7 linked regions of the Homo sapiens genome follow. The protein of the gene in region 7 purifies or fractionates together with the protein of the main gene of each other region. This does not show direct contact. Each region holds a gene or a part of one and is shown on either strand. Other genes may lie near its edges.

Region 1 (3,500 bases), on a different chromosome or scaffold from region 7:
CTGGGGGGGCTTGCAATTACTATGTGACTTTTTGAGTGAGAGACACAGTATGGCTCCTTGTTGTTCTTTTTTTTTTTTTCTTTTTTTGGAGACGGAGTCTCACTCTGTCACCCGGGCCGGAGTGCAGTGGCGTGATCTCGGCTCACTGCAACGCACTCTGCCTCTTGGGTTCAACCAATTCTGCCTCAGCCTCCCGAGTAGCTGGGACTACAGGTGCATGCCGCCCCTGGCTAATTTTTTGTATTTTAGTAGAGATGGGTTTCACCATGTTCGAGGCCGGTCTCGAACTCCTGAGCTCAGGCAATCCGCCTGCCTTGGCCTCCCAAAGTGCGGGGATTACAGGCGTGAGCCACTGTGCCCGGCCTTTTCTTTTTTGAGACTGGGTCTCACTCTGTTTTATGTAGCCTCCCTCACCCCTTCCCGGGGACCTGTGGCCCCAAACTTTGGACCTTTCACTAGCGAAGGCACCTTCTTACTTAGACTGAGGCCTTTACTCTTTTATGCACTGTGCGTGGCCTAGGTCTCTGAGCACATTAAAAATGAGCTCTACAATTAACATGCCAAGTTCAGGTCTATATTCTAACTCACAACAAAAGTGTGCACTCCTTGTCTAGTAGTTGGCAAATCTGTAACACGTTTGTGTGAGAAAGTACCTCTAGATGGTGTCAGCCTGGGCCCTAAAGAAATTGCAGCACAGCTTCCCTAGGTTGAGAGCATTTAGGTTAGGTGCCCCAAATGGGGACAACTTGCTCAGGGAGATAGACTGCTGATGTGAGGGATGAGATGGAGTGCCTGTGACAAAGGATTGTGCGTGGCCGTGACTCCCACATGGGCTGTTCTGCAGGGTCTTTGCGCACACAGCAGCATGGAATCTGGCCAGTTGGTCTAGAGTAGGGTTTTTCTTGGCAGTCATTATTTACCTTCTTATAGCCAACAGCATGGTGGTTGAGTCTCAGCTTTGGAGTCAGACTGCATGGGCTCGCACTCAGTCCTCCCTCCCGCTTGTTGGCTCTGTGGCCTTGGGTAAACCCTGTAACCTCTCTGTGCCTCCTTTTTTTGTTTTTTCATCTGTGAAATTTGCCTGTAAGGAAGTGTATGGCCTGGCCTGGGAGGTGCCTGGCACTTGACTGTGTTTTTGTCACTGTTGCTCAGATAGAGACAGCTGTCATAGTCCGTCTCTATTTCTTGTTTCCCTGCTGTGGGTCCTTGATTGAAAGAGCAGTTGGGAGACCCTCAGGCTCTGAGTGGCCTGTTCACCTCAGTCGTCTGCAAGGTGAGGCATCCTGTGCCATCTTAGGAGTGGCCCCCACTCTTCTTGAGGTGGCACTTGGCCGCTTCTTGAACGTGGGCCCCTGGGTGGCCAGGCGGGGGTAGGTGGGCCCTGGGATGTGACTGTGGAAGTGCAGGCCCATGACGCCAGTTCTTTCTGCTGTTTGTGCCCAGGTGGCAGCACCATGGATAGCTCCGCAGGAAGCAAGGCTAGGCGTGAGGCTGGGGAGGACGAGGAGGGATTCCTTTCCAAACTTAAGAAAATGTTTACCTCATGATATCCCAGCCGAGGTAGGAAAACCCTGGAGGTTTTTTTTCCCTTTGTTTTCCTCTGTGAACTAATCCTGGTTTTCTCCCACTTTAACCAATATTGTGCCCCCACCCCCAGGAGTTGGAACAGGTGCCAGTCCAAGGTGTGGTAAACCTAGCTCCACTAGGAGCTGGCCTCTCAGCCTAGGGAATAGATGACGTGGCAATCAGCCTGTAGTGCAGGACTGGCTGGGCTGCCGCGGCCAGCCTCTGGCTGTGTCTTCTTCCTGGGGAGGTGGCGATGCTGGGGCTGTTGTACAGCCCCCCTGCAGTGGTGGGTCCGGCTTGCCCATGGTCACAGAGGGCGAGTCAGGCAGAGCCAGGCCTAGAACTCAGATCTCCTCACGTCCTGCCTGCTTGGAAGCTGCCCTCCTGCGTGGACAGCGCAGGGCTGTGCAAGCCTGGGGGCTGCTCCAGGGGTAGCGCTTGCTCGCCGTGTCATCTTGGGACCCACTTTGGTTTATTATGCTCATCTCAGCAAGTGGGGTTCTCGCCCCTCTCTTGGCACAGCTGCTTTCCAGGGATTAACAGACGCTCCCCACAGGGGTGTGTTCCCTTGAAATGTTGAGTATAAGGTAACAGCCTATCTCTTTGGCTCAGGAAAAAGATCCACTGGAAACTAGGCCGGGAAGCAGCAGCCCCTCCAAGGGCCAGGGCACCTGGGAGACGGGAGGATTCCAGAACAGCAGCACTGAGCTCCCACCCGCAGAGCCTCTGGACGGCCTTGGCAACAGCAAAATCATGGGACAACACCTCTCTCCACGGAAAGGTCACAGTGGACAGCCCGGGCAGTAGGATGCAGCCCCAGAGGCTGGTGGCAGTTTCCTGTCCATTGGTAGGTGACGGCCCCTGGCTCAGGCAGAGGGAGATGGTTAGACTCTTGCAGGGCTAAAACTCTAATTTGGAATTGAATATTGTGGATATCTTAGTTAAAGGCCATGCTTACAGCTTAGAAATGAAGCCTTAAGCTGCATCAAGTTACGAAGTGATTAATTTCCTTCTCAGCAAACCTCCGGGAGGTTCCAGAATGAGTTCTTCCTGACAGGTTGTCTTCACTGGGAGCGTGGGGCCCCCAGGCCCCACCAGCACCGTCCTCCCCTAATGAGGGGCCCTGCCGAGGCATCAGCTGCTCTGCTCAGTTAGTTTTTATTCCCGGGGTACCAAGCAGCTGCACAGTCGGTGCCTGGGAGGCACGTAGAGGCCCAGAGAGTCCCTGGGGGTTCTGCTCTGACCGTGTGGGTGGTGATCCTTGTCAGGATGTACAGTCCTTGCTCCCACCCCATCCGGGATGGCCGCCTGTCCCTGACTATTGAGTCCTGTTGTTGTAAGCCAGGCATGGAGGGCTCCTGCCCTTCTGCTGAGCCACAGCCCATTGCAGCACTGTGCTGGCCAGACTTCAGCTGCCTTGGGAACTGAAGCCCTGCCACTGTTGCTAGTCAGGGGCTTGGTTCTCCCACTTACACTGTTGACATCTATTTTCTGAAGTGTGTTTAAATTATTCAGTGCTAATCATTGTTTTTTCCTTTGTAAATGTTGATTCAGAAAAGGAAAGCACAGGCTAAGCAGTTGAAGGTTCCCCACCATTCAGTGAGAGCAGAACCCCCATTCCCCAGCCTCTGCTGGTAGCATGTCGCAGTTTCCATGTGTTTCAGGATCTTCGGGCTGTCGTTAGACAGGTTAATGAAGAACACTTCTCAACAGTTTCCTTTTTGTTTTCCTTTATAATTCACTAAAATAAAGCATCTATTAGTGTCTGATTTAGGAATGTAAAATGATTCTGTATTAATGTAAATAAGATTATCTATTGCAAAAAGATATTTCAAACCTAAATTGTGGTCATTTCTTCTTTGAAAGAATTCAGACAGCCTCTGCAGGTGGCTTATGGGGGTTACAGGAGACTTGGCTGGCCTCATCCTGTGCTC
Region 2 (3,500 bases), on a different chromosome or scaffold from region 7:
GGTTTCACCATGTTGGCCAAGTGAACTCCTGACCTCAAGTGATCTCCCCGCCTTGGCCTCCCAAAGTGCTGGGATTACAGGCATGAGCCACTGTGCCTGGCCTATCCTCCACTTTAATGAAGGCCATTTTTCTTTGACCCCTTCTGTATTTTAGAGTTCCTGGTAAAAGTTTTGTTTGAGAAAAAGGGATCTGCAACCTAAAAATATGCTTAAAAACAAATTAGAAGGCTGGGTGCGGTGGCTCATGTCTGTAATCCCAGCACTTTGGGAGGCCAAGGCAGGGGGATTATGAGGTCAGGAGTTCGAGACCAACCTGGCCAATATGGTGAAACCCCATCTTTACTAAAAATACAAAAATTAGCTGGGTGTGGTGGCGCATGCCTGTAGTCTCAGCTACTTGGGAGGTTGAGGCAGGAGAATCTCTTCAACCTGGGAGGCGGAGGTTGTGGTGAGCCGAGGTCGCGCCACTGCACACCAGCCTGGGCGACAGAGTGAAACTCTGTTAAAAACAAACAAACAAATTAGAGCCAGGTGTTTTGGCATGTACTTGTAGTGCTGGCTACTTGGGAGGATGAAGTGGGAGGATCATTTGAACCCAGGAGTTCGAGTCCATTCTGGGCAACAATGAAACCCCATCTCTTAAAAAAAAAAAAAAAAAACACTCCCCAAATTAGACTAGCTAATCCCTTCCAACCTTAAAATACTATGTATTTATGATTACTATTCTATGTTCTCTTATGAAGAAATACTCATGTTTTTTATTTTTCATAGTTCTCTTGCTATGAGCCCTGGTGAAGAAATCTTAACCTTATTACAGACAATACCATTTGATATAGAAGACCTTAAGAAAGAAGCAGCTAATCTTCCCCCAGAGGATGGTAAGTGATGGACCAGGATACAGTGGAAGGGTTAAAAAAAAAAAATTAAAATGTTCTACTCAGTCTCACAGGATCCTCTCCTAAGAGGACTTATGTGAATGTAGAATGGCAGTATTATGCTTTCTTCTTTTTCAGATGACCAGTGGTTAGATCTCTCACCAGATCAGCTGGACCAGCTGCTGCAGGAAGCTGTTGGCAAAAAAGAATCCGAGTCTGTTTCCAAGGAGGAGAAGGAGCAGAACTATGACTTAACTGAAGTCTCAGAGAGCATGAAAGCTTTCATATCCAAAGTCTCAACCCACAAGGGAGCAGAGCTGCCTCGGTAATTTGTGTTAAAGTATAAATATATAAATAGCTAGAACCCAAATGTTGAAGTCATAGTCATTGCCATTTCCACTTTTTTTTTTTTTTTTTGAGTAAATGAGTTGTACTGCTTGCTTTCTTTTTTGTGCCTAGTATAGTGATAACTTACTTATTTGAAGTCAGATTTCTAGAAGCCTCATCCTTTGCAATCCTTGAAATAAGCCAGAAAGATCACCCTAAAAACCATCATCCAGAACCACACAGGGAAACCATATACTTTACTCTTTAGTAGCTTTATGGGCTCAACATTTAACTTTCAACAAGTTCAGACCTCTGATCTCCCACCCTGCAAGCAGATTGGATACTGAAAAAGGAATTCATCAGAGGCAGAAATAATAACAGAAATATGAAACTACATTTGGCAAATAACAGGAAAAACAGGTAGATAGAATTATTACTTGTAGGCTGGGCGCGGTGGCTCATGCCTGTAATCCCAGTACTTTGGGAGACCGAGGCAGGCAGATCACGAAGTCAGGAGTTCAAAACCAGCCTGGCCAGCATGGTGAAACCCTATCTCTACTAAAAATACAAAAATTAGCCGGGTATGGTGGCGCACGCCTATAATCCCAGCTACTTGAAAGGCTGAGGCAGGAGAATCGCTTGACCCCGGAAGGCAGAGGTTGCAGTGAGCTGGGATCGTGCCACTGCACCGCAGCCTGGGTGACAGAGCAAGACTCCGTCTCAAAAAAAAAACAAAACAAAAAAAACTGTTACTTGTGTATCAAATATATCATTATTAGTGTTGATGCTCTTGAACCTGATGAAAGATATAAATTTATATTTGGTATTCTCTCTTTAAGAAAGCAGGGATAAGGGAAGATATGTTCTTGTTTATTTTTTAAGCTTTAGTTCTTAAAAGAACAGGCTTTATTTAAATTAACTCAAATAAATAATGGTTTTGCTAATGCTAGATATCTTATTGGGGCTAGAGAGTGGGTAGGTCCCTAAATCAGCATAAGCTAAATGTACATAAACAAGATGCAATTTTTACTTTTCATTTATCAGACTTTCCCATTTCTGTTGTCCTGCAAGGCCAGTAAACTCAAGGATTTTTAAAACTTAAACTACAACTTTTCTTGCTGTGCCTCCTTAGAAATTCTATCTTTGGTAGCTTTCCTAAGAATGGCACCACTTTAGAAAAGTTTCAAAGAGTTGTATTTAGAATAAATTAATTGTCTTTGTCCTTTAATATTGCAGAGAACCTTCTGAGGCTCCAATCACTTTTGATGCAGATTCTTTTCTTAATTATTTTGATAAGATTTTAGGTAAGTAGTGGTGTGATGTTGACTTTCATTTTGAAACTGTTAGTAGTATGGCTGTTGCTAGAGCATTGGTTTATGAGATATCTCAGAAGCCAAAATGTTTGCTTTCTCTTCCTGGTTTGAGTTGCTTTCAACCATGAATTACTACCCATGAATAATTTTGTAGAGGCTGCCTAGCTTAGTGTTTGACATATATAGTAGCTGCTCATTAATTTTTTTTTTTTTTTTTTGAGACAGTGTCTCGCTCTGTTGCCCAGGCTGGAGTGCAGTGGCACGATCTCGGCTCACTGCAAGCTCCGCCTCCTGGGTTCATGCCATTCTTCTGCCTCAGCCTCCTGAGTAACTGGGACTACAGGCGCCTGCCACCACACCCAGCTAATTTTTTTGTATTTTTAGTAGAGACGGGGTTTCACCGTGTTAGCCAGGATGGTCTCGATCTCCTGACCTCATGATCCGCCCATCTCAGCCTACCAAAGTGCTGGGATTACAGGCGTGAGCCACCGTGCCCGGCCTCATTAAATATTTGAGAGTGACTGAATGCTGTGTGTTTAAATAGGGTTTTACCTTGGCTCCCATATTATATTGTTCTTTTTTGGAATTACTGTACTTACAAATCAGTAATAAAAAGATAACTCAAAAAATAATTATAATATGTATATATGTACAGAACTGCAGAGAGAAAGATTGGGATACCCGGAAACTGCTAAAAGATGCTTACCTCTGGGGAGAGAGTGAGATTGGAGACAATACTTGTATGGCTTGAATGTTTACATCAAAATGTATTCATTTATTAGGTATTTTTAAAAATTTTTTAAGAAAAATATTTTAATTAATTGAATTCACTTTTTTTTAAGCTAAATCTTTTGATTCAGCTTGTACGCTTTTCCACAACATTAAATGCACACATATCTGCCAGCATTACCATTTGTAGAAGGGATTTTTGTGAAGTAGACTGACTGTGTGTATTAGTCTTTTTCTGTGGGTAACATTCTAATTA
Region 3 (3,500 bases), on a different chromosome or scaffold from region 7:
ACAGGATTCATTTTAAAGAAACTATTATTTCCATGAAACAATGTCACTTCATTTATCAGGGGAAATAACAGAAGCATTACATTTGAATATTCATTTCAATTTTAATTGTACAAGACCACCCTGGTCAATATGGTGAAACCCCGTCTCTACTAAAAACACAAAAATTAGCCGAGCGTGGTGGCAGGCACCTGTAGTCCCAGCTACTCGGAAGGCTGAGGCAGGAGAATCGCTTGAACCACAGAGGCAGAGGTTGCAGTGAGCCGAGACTGCACCACTGCACTCCAGCCTGGGCGACAGAGCGAGACTGGATCTCAAAAAAAAAAAAAAAAAAAATTTCAATTGTAAGATAATCTAAATCTTCTGATCTCAAAAACGCTGAAATGGAGGAATTGTGTATATCTTTAGCCAATTGCTTTTGGTAAATATATTCTGGCAGAGACTATATTCACATACAGTACTCGACTCCATTTCCCAGATTTGGCCAAAGCTGGATGAGCAGATGTAACATATCTCAATTCTGGACTGAGGCAGTTAAAAGTCACTTTGCTTCGGTTTTCCTGCTTTAATGACAATGTAGGTTACATTCTGAGATGGTGGCTTGACAATATGGAAGGAAGGTGGATCCCTAAGCCACTGGATGGAGAACCCTACTGACTCCCACTGAACTCTGAGCAAGAGAAACATTTCTGTTGTGTTAAGCCATTGATATTTGGGGATTTGTTACCACAAAACAGCCTAATAACATTGTGAAAATAGACAAAGACTGCCCAAATGGAAACAAACAAAGGCTATTTAATTAGATCTTACTATATAGGTAGGGAGTCAGCCACTGTCAACTTGTGCTTGGCAAAGATTCAAAGGCAAGCAGGGGAGTGGGAAATCTTTATACTAAAAAAAGGGGGAAGACATCAGGTATGCTCTGATTGTAGGTTGTTGGCATGGGAAACTGGAGGTGGGCTAACTGATGTAAACCAAAAATAAAATTCTAAGTCCTTCAACCATCTGAATGAACCCCTCCTCCCAGCCAAGAGCATTTGAAAGTTAACCTGAAAAACTAGTTCCAGCCATGATGGGAAGCGGAGTTTGGCCATACCTCATTATTCCCTCCTCCCTGTTGGAATTCAGGCACAGCTGACCAGCACTAACATTAAAACAAATCTTAAGACTGACAAAACAGACTCTCTGTAGCAATAAGATACCCAATTCCAGCCTGACTCTAGCATAGTATCACATGACAGATGGCAGGCCCTGAAAGAAATCCAAGTATTTGACCCCAAATTATGTTTCTTTGCCATATCTTCAAACAGTCCTGCAAAGCTGTCTCTTGTGCGGAAAATCTACATTCTGAAGTTAATTCCCTTCCTTTCTCAGGCCTTTTGCCTGATCCAGGAGAGAATCAACCCTGATAAGAAACATTTACAATGTATTATCTCTGAAGCCTGCCACCTGGAGGCTTCCTTTACATAATGGGAACTTTGGTCTCCACAACCCCTTACCTTGGCTCAGACATTCCTTCCTATTGATTCTATCTGCATAATGGGAACCCTGGTCTCCACAACCCCTTATCTTTTTTTTTTTTTTTTTTTTTTTTTTAGATGGAGTCTCACTCTGTTGCCCAGGTTGGAATGCAGTGGCTTGATCTTGGCTCACCACAATCTCCGCCTCCCGGTTTCAAGTGATTCTCCTGCCTCAGCCTCCTGAGTAGCTGGGATTACAGGCGTGCGCTACCATGCCTCGCTAATTTTTGTATTTTTAGTAGAGATGGGGTTTCACTATGTTGGCCAAGCTGGTCTTGAACTCCTGACCTCGTGATCCACCTGCCTCGGCCTCCCAAGGTGTTGGGATTACAGGCGTGAGCCACTGTGCCTGCCCACAACCCCTTATCTTAACCTAGATACTCCCTTCTATTGATTCTAGGTCTTTAGACAGTAACAACTCTTTCGACCAACTGCCAATCAGAAAATCTGTGAATCTACCTATGACCTGGAAGCCATCTGCTTCAAGGTGTCTTCCTTTCTGGACCTAACCAATGTACATCTTACATATACTGATTGATGTCTTATGTCTCCCTAAAATGTATAAAACCAAGCTGTAGTCTGATCACCTTGGGCACATGTTCTCAGGAGCTCCTGAGGGCTGTGTCATGGGGCAATAGCCATTCATATTTGGCTTAGAATAGATCTCTTAAAATATTTTACAGAGTTTGACTCTTCGTCGACACTGGAAGCGGGGTATCCTATGTGGTTGATTTGGGAAGCATATTTGGCTTTCTCTGAGTCGTCCCGAATTGGAAGAAGGCACAAAAATTAGGGAAGCTGGTAATTACTGACCAAGTCCTGACTGGGCCTATTGCTACATAGGTCATGGGTCAGAGTTCTAGTTTTATATATGATCTGGCCATTGTCCATCTGTATATTCAGTGTTTCATTATCCTAATACAGAAAACTGGTACCTGGAAGTGAGGTGCTGCTACAATAAAAACCTATGCAGTCCTGCCTTAGTGATACTGCCTTAGTGGTCAGATTAAGGGCTGAGAGGAAACAGATACCGGAGGCTGGAAAGATGGAGGATCATGTTTTATAGTGGCAAAATATCTGGTAACGCTGTTGCCTATAATAACTTTTCATACAACTACAAGGTCAGTGAACATACAAAGAGGCTACTGACCTTGTAGTGTTATAGGAGTTTGGTAAAGAGGATTTTGGAAGTGAGTATTGGCTGCTATTAGATATTTGGCAAGTATTATAAGTAAATGATGAGTTCAAGAAGGAAGTAGTAGATTTGAAAGCAAAAACAGAAGAGAATAGAAAAAGTTCAGAAATTTAAAGCCTTGAAGGATTGGAAAAGCAGCTTGTACCTAGACCCCTAGAGGCAGGATTAAAAGACTGAGCACAGATGCCCACTGAAACCCCTTAGCTAACTAGTGCTTCTGTGGTTAAGACCATATTAAAGACGTAGCCTTCCCATCAAACCTAATAGCCTCAAACAACCAAATGAGAGGAGGAGGAATAGACGCTCTTAAATCTTTGGATGAGTTTACCAATACATGTGAACTTCGACTGTGGTTACTGACACATAGAACTGAAGGAAACCAAACAGATCGGAAGAGGCTTACTAACTTTAAAGAAACTGTTTTGTTAAAAAAAAAAAAAATATCTTTTGGCCGGGCACGGTGCCTCACACCTGTAATTCCAGCACTTTGGGAGGCCGAGACAGGCGGATCACGAGGTCAGGAGTTTGAGACCAGCCTGGCCAATAAGGTGAAACCTCATCTCTACTAAAAAATACAAAAATTAGCTGGGCGTGGTGGCATGTGCCTGTAGTCCCAGCTACTCAGGAGGCTGAGGCAGAAGAATTGCTTGAACCTGGGAGGCGGAGGTTGCAGTGAGCGGAGATTGTGCCACTGCACTCTAGCCTGGGTGACAGGGTGAGACTCCATCTCAAAAAACAAAATGAAATTTTTTTTTCTTAAATCATCTCAAGTTCATACTAAAAAAATC
Region 4 (3,500 bases), on a different chromosome or scaffold from region 7:
CACCACGTGGTGCACGGGCCGCTGGAGGCTGCAGGCGGGGATAGTGGGCAAGGTGGGGACAGGTGAGTGCACACCTGCTCCTGCATGGGGGGACGGCTAAACTCCCTGCATCACCCCTGGCGCTCAGTCGGCACCCAGACTCCTGGCACCCCGAACGAGGACGGGGCTTAAGCAGCGGGGGGAGCGAGCTGCCACTGCCACCTCAGTGTGAAGGGGCACAGACAGGGCTGCAATCCCCAGGGCTCAGCGGCCGACAACCATCTAGCAGGCACAGCCTCATCTGTGCAGACCGCAGGCTGCCTGGGGACCCAGACCCTGAGCACTGTGTCCCCACCTGGCCACCTCACCGAAGTCCCCGCCGACCAACTTACTTGAGTGGCGGGAAGCGGGAATCCTGCACAACTGAGCTGGGGGAGAGGCCGAAGGGGTAGGGGGTGCTGAGCAGGTGCGAGGGGATGGCTGGTCCCCCTGCCTTCTCCTGAGGGAGCGGGGGCTCCACAATGAGGCGTTCCCGACCTCCACTGCTGCTCCTGGAGCCGGCATCCTGCGGGAGGAGAGCGTCCAGTCAGGGCAGGAGCCTGGTATAGGCCACTGACCACAGGACACAGCCAGGTCTCCTGACTCACGGGAAGGCGCTAGATTTAGTTCATGTTCTAGAAACATCCTTTCCCTAAGGCTTTCTACGCAAAACATGGTGCATGTGGTGTGGGAAGCAGAACCGTAAGAAAGGGGATGTGGCTGCGACAGGTCTGGGGTGAAGTGCGTCTCGGGATCCGTCTCCCTCCCTGGGCCTCCTCAGTCCAGCAAAAGAACTAGAACCCCCCAGAAACACAATGTGTGCAGGTGAAGGATGCAGGGTGGCAGGGGCTCCTGCCTCCACCCCTCCTGGTGTGGACATCCGAAGGTCACACCAGACACACACCCGGGGAAGCAGACACCGTTGGCACCCAGCACGCCGTGAAGCGAGTGCCACGATGTAGCCAAGACGTCAACTGCGCCGACAGCTGCCCACCTGGCCGCAGATGTCCTGGCCCTGGTGCCCACGTGGAGGGCAGGGGCAAAGGAAGCTGGCACTGCCCCTGGGCCGAAGGTGCTGGTCTGCCCCCAACCACCTCCTGGGGTGGCCCTGGCCCTGGAGCCCACCAGAACAGGCAGCAGCTGGGCCCTGACTGGCCAGCTGGGGTACCGGCCTTCACACACACGGTGGGGCAGGGAAGGCAACAGCTCGCCTGTCCCAGGCTCCTGGACACAGTGGACCTGGGTGTAGCTGGGAAGGTGGTCCAGAGGACTCAGATGAGGGGTCTTCTCCAGGCACAAAGCAGGAGGAGGCAGTGGCCCAAAGCCCACCTTCCGGGCTGAGGTCCCTGCCAAGTTCAAGGATAGGCCGTGCCACCCCTAGCCACGCAGAGGCTGCCCCGCACACACGCAGGGTCCAGCCCGGAGAAACCAGAGCATGAAAAGGCCTTGCTTGTTCCTGTTATTCGTGTGACTAAGTGGGAGGAGGAGGAGGAGGGGGTAGGAGGAGGAGGAGGGGGTAGGAGGAGGAGGAGGAGGAGGAGGGGGTAGGAGGAGGAGGAGGAGGAGGGGGGAGGAGGAGGAGGAGGGGGAGGGGGGAGGAGGGGGGAGGAGGGGGGCGGAGGGAGCCTCAGGGCGGCCCAGATGGGGGCTGTGCTCTGGACTCTGGATGGCTGCCAACCCAGGCGTCACTCTGTCACTGGGGCAGCCGTTCTCAGCCCCAGCATCTTCCCCATGTGGGGACAGCACTGCCCAGGCCTACCCTGACCTGGGGGTGTCTGAGAGCCATGGCCACGCTGGCCCCTCTGAGCTTCCCAGGGATGCAGAGCCACGGGAACCCGGCCCTTCCTCACGTTCCATCTGGCCATGTCAGGTAACGACTGCTGATCAGCGGGCAGTGCTCCTGAAGAGCACCAGCCCCGCTCTGCCTCCCTGAGCCACGAAATGCCAAACACCCAAAAAACAAGGAGGCCATGGCCGTCTCCCCACAAGATCAGCAGGAATGATGGCCCAGGGGCTCTGAGACCTGCCCCACCGTGGAGAAGCATCTGTCTCCCAGGGGCCGTGCCTGTGTCCCTGACCCGCCAGCCCCTCTTCCTGGGCCCATCCATCTTCATAGCGGCAGACGGTGACCCGGCAGCAGCACATGGCACCCGCGCAGAGGCAGTGCAGGCAGCCCGGGCCGGCGCCTCCCCTCTCTCCACCCTCCAGGAGACAGTCAGCGAGGATTAACTGGAGGAGCCGCCGCCGCCGCCGCCGCCTGGAATCTTCAATGAGAGGCAGCATCTGCTCCCTTCCCGCGGGCTGAGCCCCGGCCCCCCTTCTCTGTAGGGTCCTCCTGGGTTCACGACTTCTGACCTGCCTCTCCAGGGTGCTGGTCTCGAGGGTGGGAGGTACACATGGGCACTGACGCCCTGCGTGGGGCCGGGAACTTCCTATTGAGGAGCCAGCGCCTGGCCTTGGGGTCTCCAGCCGGTGTCAGCAACCGGGGTAGTGGGGGAGTGGCCGAGGGGCCAACCTGACCTTGGGAGACCTGGCCATCCTGTCGTGCCTCGTGCACACATCAATGGCATGTGCCCGTCACGGCACCTGCTCAGAGGACAGCAGAGTTGATGGCACGGCTATGAACGGGCATGCGGGGGACTCACAGGGCAGCAGAGTTGATGGCACAGCTGTGCACGGGCATGTGGGGGACGCACCAGCAGGGTGGGGGCCCGGACATGGCAGGTGTGTTGCCAGGCTGGCCTGCCTACCCCAGCCCCGTGAGGCTATTTCCAGGCTGGGCTTCTAGATCCTGCCTCACGCCCCTACCCTGCCTGGCATAGGGCCAAACATCTGAGGAACGGAGCACGAGGAAGGACACACCCTGTTCCTAGGGTCTGGGATGGACTTAACAAGACGGAGTGGCCCCTGGCCCCCCAGCATCCAAGTAGCACCCCAATGAACACCAGGCCTAAAGCTAGTGGGTCTCTGGATGCCCAGAACAGGGGCCTCGCCTGCTCAGGCACCCGGGGTACCTGGACTCCCCCTCCCAGGCTGGTGGGGAGGCCTCCAGGGCAGGAGGGAGACGACAGCCAGGGGCTTCAATCATCACCCAGCCTTGGGTGGCCAGAGTCAGAAGAGGGCTGGAGGACAGACCTCGACCTGAGGACAGCACCCAGGGTCAAACTACCAACAGCCCAGGCCTGCCGCCCTCCTCCGCATGCTGCCCGCGCCGTGGGCCGGGTCAAACGGCAAAGCACAGGGCCCCAGCCGCCCCGCCACAAGGAGGGGCCTGTCCCCAGCCCAGACACGGCCCTTGAACCCCTTCTCCCCTCAGCCGAGGACAAAGCCCTGCTCGCAGGCCAGATGGCACCTTCCTGGCCTGGCTGAGGACAAACAGGGAGTCCGGGGGGCTGGGGGGCAGCCAGCAGGCGGGGCAGGGGCCCGGCGAGCCAGACCCACATGTCTGTGGCTTCCGTCTGGCTGGCGCCCGGCCAACCCTG
Region 5 (2,377 bases), on a different chromosome or scaffold from region 7:
AGGTCAAGGCAGGTGGATCATGAGATCAGGAGATCGAGACTATCCTGGCTAACACAGTAAAACCCCATCTCTACTAAAAAAAAAAATAAAAAAATTAGCCGGGCGTGGTGGCGGGCGCCTGTAGTCCCAGCTAGTCGGGAGGCTGAGGCAGGAGAATGGCATGAACCCAGAAGGTGGAGCTTGTAGTGAGTTGAGATCGCGCCACTGCACTCCAGCCTGGGAGACAGAGCGAGACTCCGTCTCAAAAAAAGAAAAAACTAAAATGTTTATACTTCTAATTAAATCAGTCTTTTCTTTTAGGCAGTTAATAGTATCATATCTATCGTTTTTGGTACTCGAAGAATTGCCTGGGCTCACCTTGATCGTAAGTTGACAGTGCTGGACTGGCAGCAAAGTGACCGTTGGAGTTTAATGAGAGGAATATACTCATCATCAGTCTATTTAGAAGAGGTAAGGCAGTTGCACCTCCAGATTCCTACCTGCTAGAGCTCCTTGTGTAGTTTAATCTTCTGGTCCCAAAAGGAATGTAATAAAATAGTAAAGATGGGTTTTCTTCTGGTACTTGTTACTCACTTATTCCTATTATGTTTTCCATCACCTTTGATTTTTAAAAATTCAACCTTTAGTTAGTTCAAGAAATGCCTTATGCATCGAAGGCAGATACTGAGAAAATCAATGGTATTTCATTCTAAATGTTATAGAACATTATCACTCTTTTATTTATAAAGCTTATTTTTCAAAATGCCATCACATTGTCTCATTTGAGTTTTCAAAACCTTGCGAAATGGTCAGGAATTATCACCTTAATGGTCAGGAATTACCACCTTGATTATACATATGAAATCTGTGGTTCAGTCAAGCATCTGATGTGATTAGTCAGTTGCAGAGGTGATTGATTCTTGCTAGTTATTCTAACCGTATGCTCTATCCCAGAAAATGTTTGAAGGTTTAGTAAAACAGTTTTAAGTTGTCTAACCTTAAAGCCAATACATATTTTAGAAATTATGAAGTCCACTGTACAGATCAAGAAACTGGTACTTAGGAGGACTAAACAGCTTAGCTTAGCTGTTGTTGTGACATAACCATGACCAGAACCAGACTGCTCATAAAATGGCTTTTTCAGTTATTTCAAAATTGTCAATATAGTATAAATTAACTAATTATAATATTTTTAAATAGAAGTGGGACAGAGAGGGGACCAAACATAAAATGTAATGAATTATTTCTGTTCCTTTATTTTGTCTTTTTTTAAAAAGATTTCCTCGATCATTTCAAAGATGCCTAAAGCAGATTTCTATGTTCTGGAAAAAACAGGACTTTCCATTCAGAACTCATCTCTGTTTCCAATACTGTTACATTTTCATATCATGGAAGCCATGCTGTATGCCTTATTAAATAAAACTTTTGCCCAGGATGGGCAGCATCAGGTGCTGAGCATGAATCGAAATGCAGTGGGGAAGCATTTTGAACTGATGATTGGTGACTCCCGGACTAGTGGAAAAGAGCTAGTGAAGCAGTTTCTCTTCGATTCTATACTGAAGGCGGATCCTCGGGTGTTCTTCCCATCAGATAAAATAGTTCACTACAGACAGATGTTTTTATCTACTGAACTACAAAGAGTAGAAGAGCTTTATGATTCATTATTACAAGCTATTGCCTTCTATGAATTAGCAGTGTTTGACTCTCAGCCTTAGAATTCTGAGGTTAACGTGCTAAAGTATAATTATTAGCTCTAACGTAACACCAACTGTTGTGAACATCCATGTTATTGGAAAAGAACACATTTTCAGTGTATTTTAGATGTTTAAATTCTGACTTTTGGCTATTAAATGGTTTACACAATAAGCCAAGACCAAATCAATAAACATTTTATGAGATTCTGTGCCTCTCAGGTTAATGTGTTAAACAGTAACATGGGGCTTGGTGCAGTGGCTTATGCCGATAATCCCAGCACTGTGGGAGGCTGAGGCAGGAGGACTGCTTGTGCCCAGGAGCTCAAGAGCAGCCTGGGCAACATAGCAAGACCACATAATTTTTAAACATTTTTCATTAAAAAAAAGAAACAGTAAGATGCCAAATTGACAAAACAAGAAACAAAGTTATCTCCCTTTAAAAGCAAATACTATCTATACTAAACATTTGCATTATTATCATATTGTTAAAATAGGGAATAATGGTTTTCCTAGGTGGTACTTATTATAAGAATAAAGCTGGCCACGCATGGTGGCTCACGCCTGTAATCCCAGCACTTTGGGAGGCTGAGGCGGGTGGATCACCTGAAGTCAGGAGTTTTGAGACTGGCCTGACCAAAGTGGAGAAACCCTGTCTCTACTAAAAAAAAAATACAGAATTAGCCGGGTGTGGTGGCGCATGCCTG
Region 6 (3,500 bases), on a different chromosome or scaffold from region 7:
AGAGCTCACATAAGATATGAAAACAATTTTTCTTAAAACAAATTAGAGTGCTAAGAATATCTCCAATGTAATCAATTTAACTTATGCAAAGTTTAACATAATACATCTTTTAAAAAGATAAGAGAGAGACAATAACTTCAACAAAATGAGCCACTAATTTGCATTTGGGAAAACTTTAATAACAAAACATTACACCAAACACATAGAAGTACCTACTGACTTTTCCATCAGTTATGAAAAATCATGAATTAGTACATACCTCTGCTTCCACTGCTAACTGGTATGCAATTTTTAACTCTCCAAGCTGAAGAGCAAGCTCAAAACGATGCTCAGGATCTGTGGATACTGTAAGAGCTTGCTGCTTGAAGCCCTAAACAGATTTTTAAAAATTATATATATTTATGCATACAAAAATGTATGTATGTTTTATATATATATATATACACACACATATACAGTGTACACACATTCACAGAGCAAATCATTTCCCTCTCAAACTAGAAACCCCACTATTTAATAAGAAGATGGAATAATTAAGGAGTCATTAAAGGAAGTGGTAAGAACAAACCTGGCAGATAAAATATTCAGTGACAGAATTCTTACTGTTTATTAGGATAATGGAAGCTGGCTAATGTTAAACTCAAGTAACCAGTAAAACTGGAAATGTAAATATAAACAGATATGTCAAAAAGAAAGGAATTTTGCAAAGTTGACTAAACAAGAATCATTTCAAAAGAAGAAAACTAGGCACAGCAGTGTAAACTTAGCTGTTGGTAATCTACTCAACTAGGCTGGGAAGTAGAGATCATCTAGTCCAACCCCTCATTTTGCAGATGAGACTATTAGCAGTAAATGGCCAAAGAAACGGGAGTCAAATATAAAACCTTCCAACTTTCTGTCATCTGTAGGTCATAGCAAACATTGTGTATTCAGGTCCAGTCACCAATTAGGTGTCATTACCTATTCCTTTATTGTTGGTCTCAAGTCCAGTTCCTCAGCAAGTATCCAAAAGACAGGAAGTCTAAAATTTCCTTCCCATGCTCCATTAAGGCATTAAGAACAAGCTTTTAAACCAGGGGTCTCCCAAACAACCAGTCTGTGGCCTGTTAGGAATCAGGCCGCACAGCAGAGGGTGAGCAGTGGGTGGGTGGGTGAGTGAGCATTACCGCCTAAACTCCGCCTGTAACGGCATTAGATTCTCATAGGAGCATGAACCCTATTGTGAACTGTACATGTGATGGATCTAGGTTCTGTGCTCTTTATGAGACTCTTAATGCCTGACGATCTGAGGTGGAACAGTTTCATCCTGAAATGTACCCCCTTCCCATCTGTGGAAAAATTGTCTATCTGCCACGAAACTGGTCCCTGGTGCCAAAAAGGTTGGGGACCACTGTTTTAAATCAACTATTGTAATTATTAAATTAGCTTCTCCTTCAAGACAAACACTACTGATGGGGTCATTTTTAGCTCTAGGGATGTAATGTGTTACACAAAAAGCTCAGGGATAGTTTACCTCTTCACCAGACTGAGGGAGAATGCTCATTTATGGGATAGTCAAGATTGAGAAGCTGGACAGCTTTAGGGTTCTGTCTGGCTATATCTTCAGGATGGCTTTATCATCAAGTTTGAAATGTTTTAACTTCTCAGCTTATACAGGCTGCCAACCCGCCCCGATCCATCCATGAATACGATGTAAATAAGGCATTCTAAATAACCGGAGTTACTTTTTTTCCACTAGCATTGATATAGATAACATAAAACCCAAGAGTGGAGGATGGAAGATCTCTGGAACTAGTCAGATACAGCCAAGGGCAAAACACATGAAATGAGGCGGACTAAAATATATACTTTTGTTTTCTGCTAATTCCCTACTACTAATAAAATCACACTAAAAGGATTTTTTTTTAAAGGCATAAGCTCCCAACGACACACAGAAAGGGAGAGGAAACAGTAACAAAAGTTTGGAAGCTGGAAAGCTGGTGGAGGAATATAAACATTTTGTTAAAACAGTAGAGAAAACAGATCCTAAATCAGGAGTGAGAACAGCATAGAAACAATGTGATTTACACCCAGTGTGTCTCATGAATGGTAGGGCTAAAAACAAACAAACTGCCCTAAAAGCATTCAGAAACTCTAGATCCGCTCCCCTCTCCCACCTCCCCTCTCTCACCTCCCCTCTCCCACCTCATGACAAAGAAGACAGGTTTATTCTTTGGAGAGGACAAACTAAAGAGTCTCCAGACCAGGAGATTCCAAGCACACTTGGAGGAAAAAGTACAGAGTATCAAAGGAAGACAGGAGATTATGAAAATGGATACACAGACTCAATGAAATATTAAATACTGAGACTCCAAGGTATCTTCTACTGAGACCCCAAAATGATGGTGACTGGGGAGCTTTTCAGTAAAATCTACTGAGCCCAAGGGAAAAGACTTAAAAATACTAAAATGTCAACTCCATGAAGGCTACATGTCAGCAGGAACAGTGCCTAGCACATTGTTAAGTGCTTGTTAAATTCATTACATAAATGGAAAGTCATCAAAAATTCATTGGCTAAAGATACTGACATTGAGACTCCCTAATCAAATGGGCCAACCACACCAGATATTGTGAAATCCAAACCCAATATGCCCCACCCACAAATTCAGACCTTCTGATCTGTTTCTTGTACCTTCACTCTTAAATGAGGGCCCAAGGACATCAGATACTTGAGGAAAATCACTAACAGCAAAGATGCAGATCAAAATGAAGCAATAAAAGGAACGTGAAGGAAGCATACCATATAGGGGGAAGAGAAAACTTCAAAATCTAAAAACAGAAATATATCATTCATATCTGTAGAAAGATACGAGAAACTTTTATCTATAAACAATAAGATTTTAAAAGAGAATAGGAAAATCAGTGCAGGACATACAACATGAACAATTCCAGAAAGACAGAATACAGAAAACGAAGGATATCACCATAGAACGATTCATGAAAATCCTTCAGAAATGTAGGACATAAGTTTCCCATTAAAAAAGCTCATCTAATAACTGGCAGAATTAATGAAAACTGATTCCTACCAAGGCCTACCATGATTATAACATTTCAGTACAACAGAGATGACATTCAGAAAGTTTCCACAGAGAAAAACCAGGTCATGTACTAAGAATGAGGAATAAAAATGGCTTTAGACTTCAACAATAACTACAAGGCAATGGAACAATGCCTTCAAAATTCTGAGAGAAAATTACCTCCAACAATTATATACCAGTTAAATGGTTGAATATGTTTTAGGGTAGAACAATGGCACTTTCAGATATTCAAAGTCACAAAACAATTTATCTCTCATTAACAATCCTTTTCTCAGGAAATTGCTGAAGGGCATGTTCCCCTAAAATGAGGGAGCAAAGCAGGAAAGGAGATAGGGGTATAAGAAACAATGGATCCAACAGGACAGAAGCAAAGGAAGCCCCAACATGATGGTGAGGGGAAATCCATGATGAGAGCAGGAAAAC
Region 7 (3,500 bases):
CCCAGTTGTAGGAACATGCAAGTGTTCTGACCATGTTGAAGCTGGGCCACGCTAAGCTCTGATGTACAGTAGGTTAAGGGTATTAAATGCATTTGAACTTATGACATTTTCAACTTAAACAGGATAGAGTCCCATCATAGGTCAAAGAGCATCTGTATTGATTTTCACTTACTCGTTTGAGTCTTATACCACCATACCCATTACCTTGGGCCTTGGCAGTATTCGGATGCAAAGTGGCCCATCAGCAAAGAGAATCTATGATTCAATGACATGGTCAGCACTTTTGACTCTGGGTAGGGTTTCTTTCTGCCCACAGTGGAGCAATTTAAAAACCCAAGTACTCTGATTTCCTGGGTTATTTGTGAGCCAGGTGGCCTTGTGCATGGCTCAGCATGGCCCGCTTTCAGCCTGGCAGTGAGGACTGCAGGGGCTGAGCTACGGGCATTCTGGCAGCTCTGTGCGTGGCTGGATGTACCACGGCCTTGGGCACACTCAGGCCCAGGCCCTGATGGCGGCACATCCATCTGTGCCCTTCAGCTGGCGGGGAACCTGCTGGACAAGCTGGTGCTTCTGTGCTGCTGCCCACGGGACACCCACACGATTGGATTGTCCTCGTGAGGCCCAGTGGCCGGTGGGAATGCGTGAGAAGGATCAGTCTTGCCATTGTCAACCCTTTTTACAGGATTTGGCTTGGCAAGGCCGTTTTCCTCTGCAGCTGGGAGAGTGATATTCACATATATTCAGTTGTTGGAGCCCCGGGTCTGTGACTAATTTACTATTATTAAATCACTGATGTTCTATATCGTTCAATTCCAAGCCCTTGGATTGAGCACCTGCTGTGTCTTTGCCACTGTGGTAGGTACTGTGGTGGCTGCTGCTTTTGTAGCTTTACTTCTAGCACTTCACTGTGTTCATTCACTTAATCCTCAGAGCAGCTCTATGAGGCTGCCACCACCTTACTCCCGTTTTATAGACGAGCAGCAGCACCTGCTAATTAAGAGTGAAGCCAGCTGCCCAGGGCGACGGCTTTAGCTGGGATGCCACCCTCCTGGTCTGGCTCAGCCGCCTTCCAGAAGCTCACAGGATAGTTGATAGCCCTTCCCTCTTTCCTAGGAGTTTTGCAAAGGAAATTTTATTTCCCCATTTCATTTTATTTTTATTTGTGAAAAGGTAATGCACGTAGTTCAAAGTTGACAAGGATGCAGAGGAAAAGTGAATCATCCCATGGCATCCCCAGGCACCTGGTGTATCACCCTAGATACAGTGTGTTTTCGTACAACTTTCTTAAATTCTAAGCAAATACAAGTAAATATACCTACATTTATTTTTCCTTTTTAAAATGCAAATGGTACTTCCTGTATTCCGTTCTGTACCATTCTTTCTTTTTTTTTGAGATGAAGTCTCACTCTGTCACCCAGGCTGTAGTGCAGTGGTGTGATCTCAGCTCACTGTAAACCTCCTCCCCCTGAGCTCAAGTGATCCTCCTTCCTCAGCCTCCCAAGTAGCTGGGACCACAGATGTGCGCCACCATGCCCGGCTAAGTTTTTGTATTTTTGGTAGAGTCGGGGTTTCACCATGTTGGCCAGGCTGGTTTCAAACTCCTGAGCTCAGGTGATCTGCCCGCCTCTACCTCCCAAAGTGCTGGGATTACAGGTGTAGCCACATGCCCGGCACTGTACCTTGCTTTTCAAAAAAATTCAGGCAGTATGTCTTATCGATCATTCATGTTATTACATGAAGAAAATTTTATTGTTCTTAAGACCGCAAGGTGTTTCTTTATATGAATGAGCCATCATTTATTGAGTGAGGCCGTGATTGATGAACATTTAGACTTTTCCCAGTCATTTGCTATTATAGGCACTGCTACAGTGAATAACCTCATTTTTTTCATGTACAGATATGTCTGTAGAATAATTCCTAGAAGTGGAATTCCTGATCCAAAGTCGTATGTTAAAAGTTATTTAAAACCCAATTACATGTTGTTTACAAAAAAGTGCACTCTAAGCATAAAGACGTAAACAGGTTGCAGGTAGAAGGGTGGAAAAATATAAACCATGTACATACTAAGCAAAGAAAGCTTTGCATCTATACTAGTATCAGAAAAAGTAGATTTCAAGGTGAAGAGTATTCCCAGAAATAAAGGGGCACCTCATAAAGACAGTGATCATCAAGGAAACGTAACAATCTCTAAATGTGTATGCACTTGTGTTAGGGGCCTCCAAGACCACCTCCCAGGTTTGAAGAGTCTCTAAGAGGACTCACATGACTCAGCATGTAGTCATACTCTCAGCTAAGGTTGATCCAGCAGAAGGATACAGAGCAAGATCAGCAAAGGGAGGAGGCATATGGGGGATGTCTGAGGGAAGAGGGTACAAGCTTCCAAGAGTCCTCTCTCAGTTGAGTCACACAGGATGCGTTTGATTCCTCCAGCAATGAATTGTAACAACACACGTGAAATGTTGTGTAGCATGTCCAAAATTCCAGACTCTCAGAAGGGAAACACGTGTTTAGCATAAGCCACAGTACATAAACAGTTTAGGCACAGTGAGCTCCTCTTACCAGTTAGGTGGTAGGAACTCTCTTGAAATCTAAGTTCCCAGACTCCAGCAAAAGGGCAGACTTCTAAGCTGGTCTTTCAAAGCATAACAGTAAGGTCTGTTCTGATAACTCTTTTGTACAAAAGAGCAAAATTGGACAGAACTAAAGGGAACTATATTCAGATTCATAATCATGGTTGGAGACTTTTAACTCTTCTTCTCTCAATTATTGAAAAAACAGATAGATCAGAACACTCATAGGGATTTGGAAGCTCTGAAGAATACCGTCAATCACCTTGTCATCTCTTAACGCTACTCCCAAGAAAGCTAGAGTACACATTCTTCCCAAGTGTACCATCAATCACCCTGTCATCTCTTAAACACCACTCCCAACAAAGCTAGAGAACACGTTCTTCCCAAGTTCATATGGAACAGTCACCAAGATAGACCGTATGCTGGGCCATTAAAATGTCCCAATAAGCTTCAAAGGACCCAAATTATAGAGTATGTTTATCGACTACTGTGCTTTTAAGTTAGAAATAAATAATATGAGATCTAGAAAATCCTCAAATAGGAAATTAACATACTGGATCAAAGAAGAATTAATAGGGAAATTAGAAAATAATTTGAACTGAGTAATGGAAGAAAATATACAGATTTATAGGATATAACTAATACAGTTCTTTGAGGGAAATGTATAGCTTTACATGACTATATTAGAAAAGAAGAAGGTATAAAATCAGTGACGTCTGTTTCCTCCTTAACAACCTAAATAAAGGAACAAATTAGATACAAACCTAAATAAAGGAACAAATTAGATACAAAGTAACTAGAAGGAAGGAAATGGTAAATACAGTTATGCATGGTTCCTTGACAGTGCCGACACATTCTGAGAAATGGTGTTAGGTGATTTTGTCATTGTGCAAACATCATAGGATGTACTTACGTAAACCTAGAGGGTAG

Evidence for each region.
Region 1: the proteins of NPHP4 (region 7) and DNAJA3 purify together in Homo sapiens (co-immunoprecipitation; one large-scale study listed by IntAct). This does not show direct contact.
Region 2: the proteins of NPHP4 (region 7) and ECD purify together in Homo sapiens (co-immunoprecipitation; one large-scale study listed by IntAct). This does not show direct contact.
Region 3: the proteins of NPHP4 (region 7) and LATS1 purify together in Homo sapiens (affinity purification with western blotting; one study listed by BioGRID). This does not show direct contact.
Region 4: the proteins of NPHP4 (region 7) and GSE1 purify together in Homo sapiens (co-immunoprecipitation; one large-scale study listed by IntAct). This does not show direct contact.
Region 5: the proteins of NPHP4 (region 7) and TEFM purify together in Homo sapiens (affinity purification with mass spectrometry, with the first as the bait; one large-scale study listed by BioGRID). This does not show direct contact.
Region 6: the proteins of NPHP4 (region 7) and COPB2 purify together in Homo sapiens (co-immunoprecipitation; one large-scale study listed by IntAct). This does not show direct contact.

Annotation. Positions count from the first base shown.
Region 1 is NC_000016.10:4,453,368-4,456,867, forward strand, and holds the end of DNAJA3 (dnaJ homolog subfamily A member 3, mitochondrial), read left to right. Parts: intron 1-1,443; coding exon 1,444-1,547; 3' UTR 1,548-1,560; exon of another isoform or gene 1,561-1,561; intron 1,562-2,178; coding exon of another isoform or gene 2,179-2,201; 3' UTR 2,202-3,408; downstream 3,409-3,500. UniProt on the Homo sapiens protein: Modulates apoptotic signal transduction or effector structures within the mitochondrial matrix. Affect cytochrome C release from the mitochondria and caspase 3 activation, but not caspase 8 activation.
Region 2 is NC_000010.11:73,137,009-73,140,508, reverse strand, and holds part of ECD (protein ecdysoneless homolog), read left to right. Parts: intron 1-771; coding exon 772-878; intron 879-1,013; coding exon 1,014-1,200; intron 1,201-2,438; coding exon 2,439-2,506; intron 2,507-3,500. UniProt on the Homo sapiens protein: Regulator of p53/TP53 stability and function. Inhibits MDM2-mediated degradation of p53/TP53 possibly by cooperating in part with TXNIP. May be involved transcriptional regulation. In vitro has intrinsic transactivation activity enhanced by EP300.
Region 3 is NC_000006.12:149,708,102-149,711,601, forward strand, and holds part of LATS1 (serine/threonine-protein kinase LATS1), read right to left. Parts: intron 1-3,500. UniProt on the Homo sapiens protein: Negative regulator of YAP1 in the Hippo signaling pathway that plays a pivotal role in organ size control and tumor suppression by restricting proliferation and promoting apoptosis.
Region 4 is NC_000016.10:85,651,322-85,654,821, reverse strand, and holds part of GSE1 (genetic suppressor element 1), read right to left. Parts: intron 545-3,500; coding exon 372-544; intron 29-371; coding exon 1-28.
Region 5 is NC_000017.11:30,898,486-30,900,862, reverse strand, and holds the end of TEFM (transcription elongation factor, mitochondrial), read left to right. Parts: intron 1-300; coding exon 301-450; intron 451-1,256; coding exon 1,257-1,694; 3' UTR 1,695-1,877; downstream 1,878-2,377. UniProt on the Homo sapiens protein: Transcription elongation factor which increases mitochondrial RNA polymerase processivity. Regulates transcription of the mitochondrial genome, including genes important for the oxidative phosphorylation machinery.
Region 6 is NC_000003.12:139,362,148-139,365,647, forward strand, and holds part of COPB2 (coatomer subunit beta'), read right to left. Parts: intron 371-3,500; coding exon 260-370; intron 1-259. UniProt on the Homo sapiens protein: The coatomer is a cytosolic protein complex that binds to dilysine motifs and reversibly associates with Golgi non-clathrin-coated vesicles, which further mediate biosynthetic protein transport from the ER, via the Golgi up to the trans Golgi network.
Region 7 is NC_000001.11:5,982,426-5,985,925, reverse strand, and holds part of NPHP4 (nephrocystin-4), read left to right. Parts: intron 1-3,500. UniProt on the Homo sapiens protein: Involved in the organization of apical junctions; the function is proposed to implicate a NPHP1-4-8 module. Does not seem to be strictly required for ciliogenesis. Required for building functional cilia.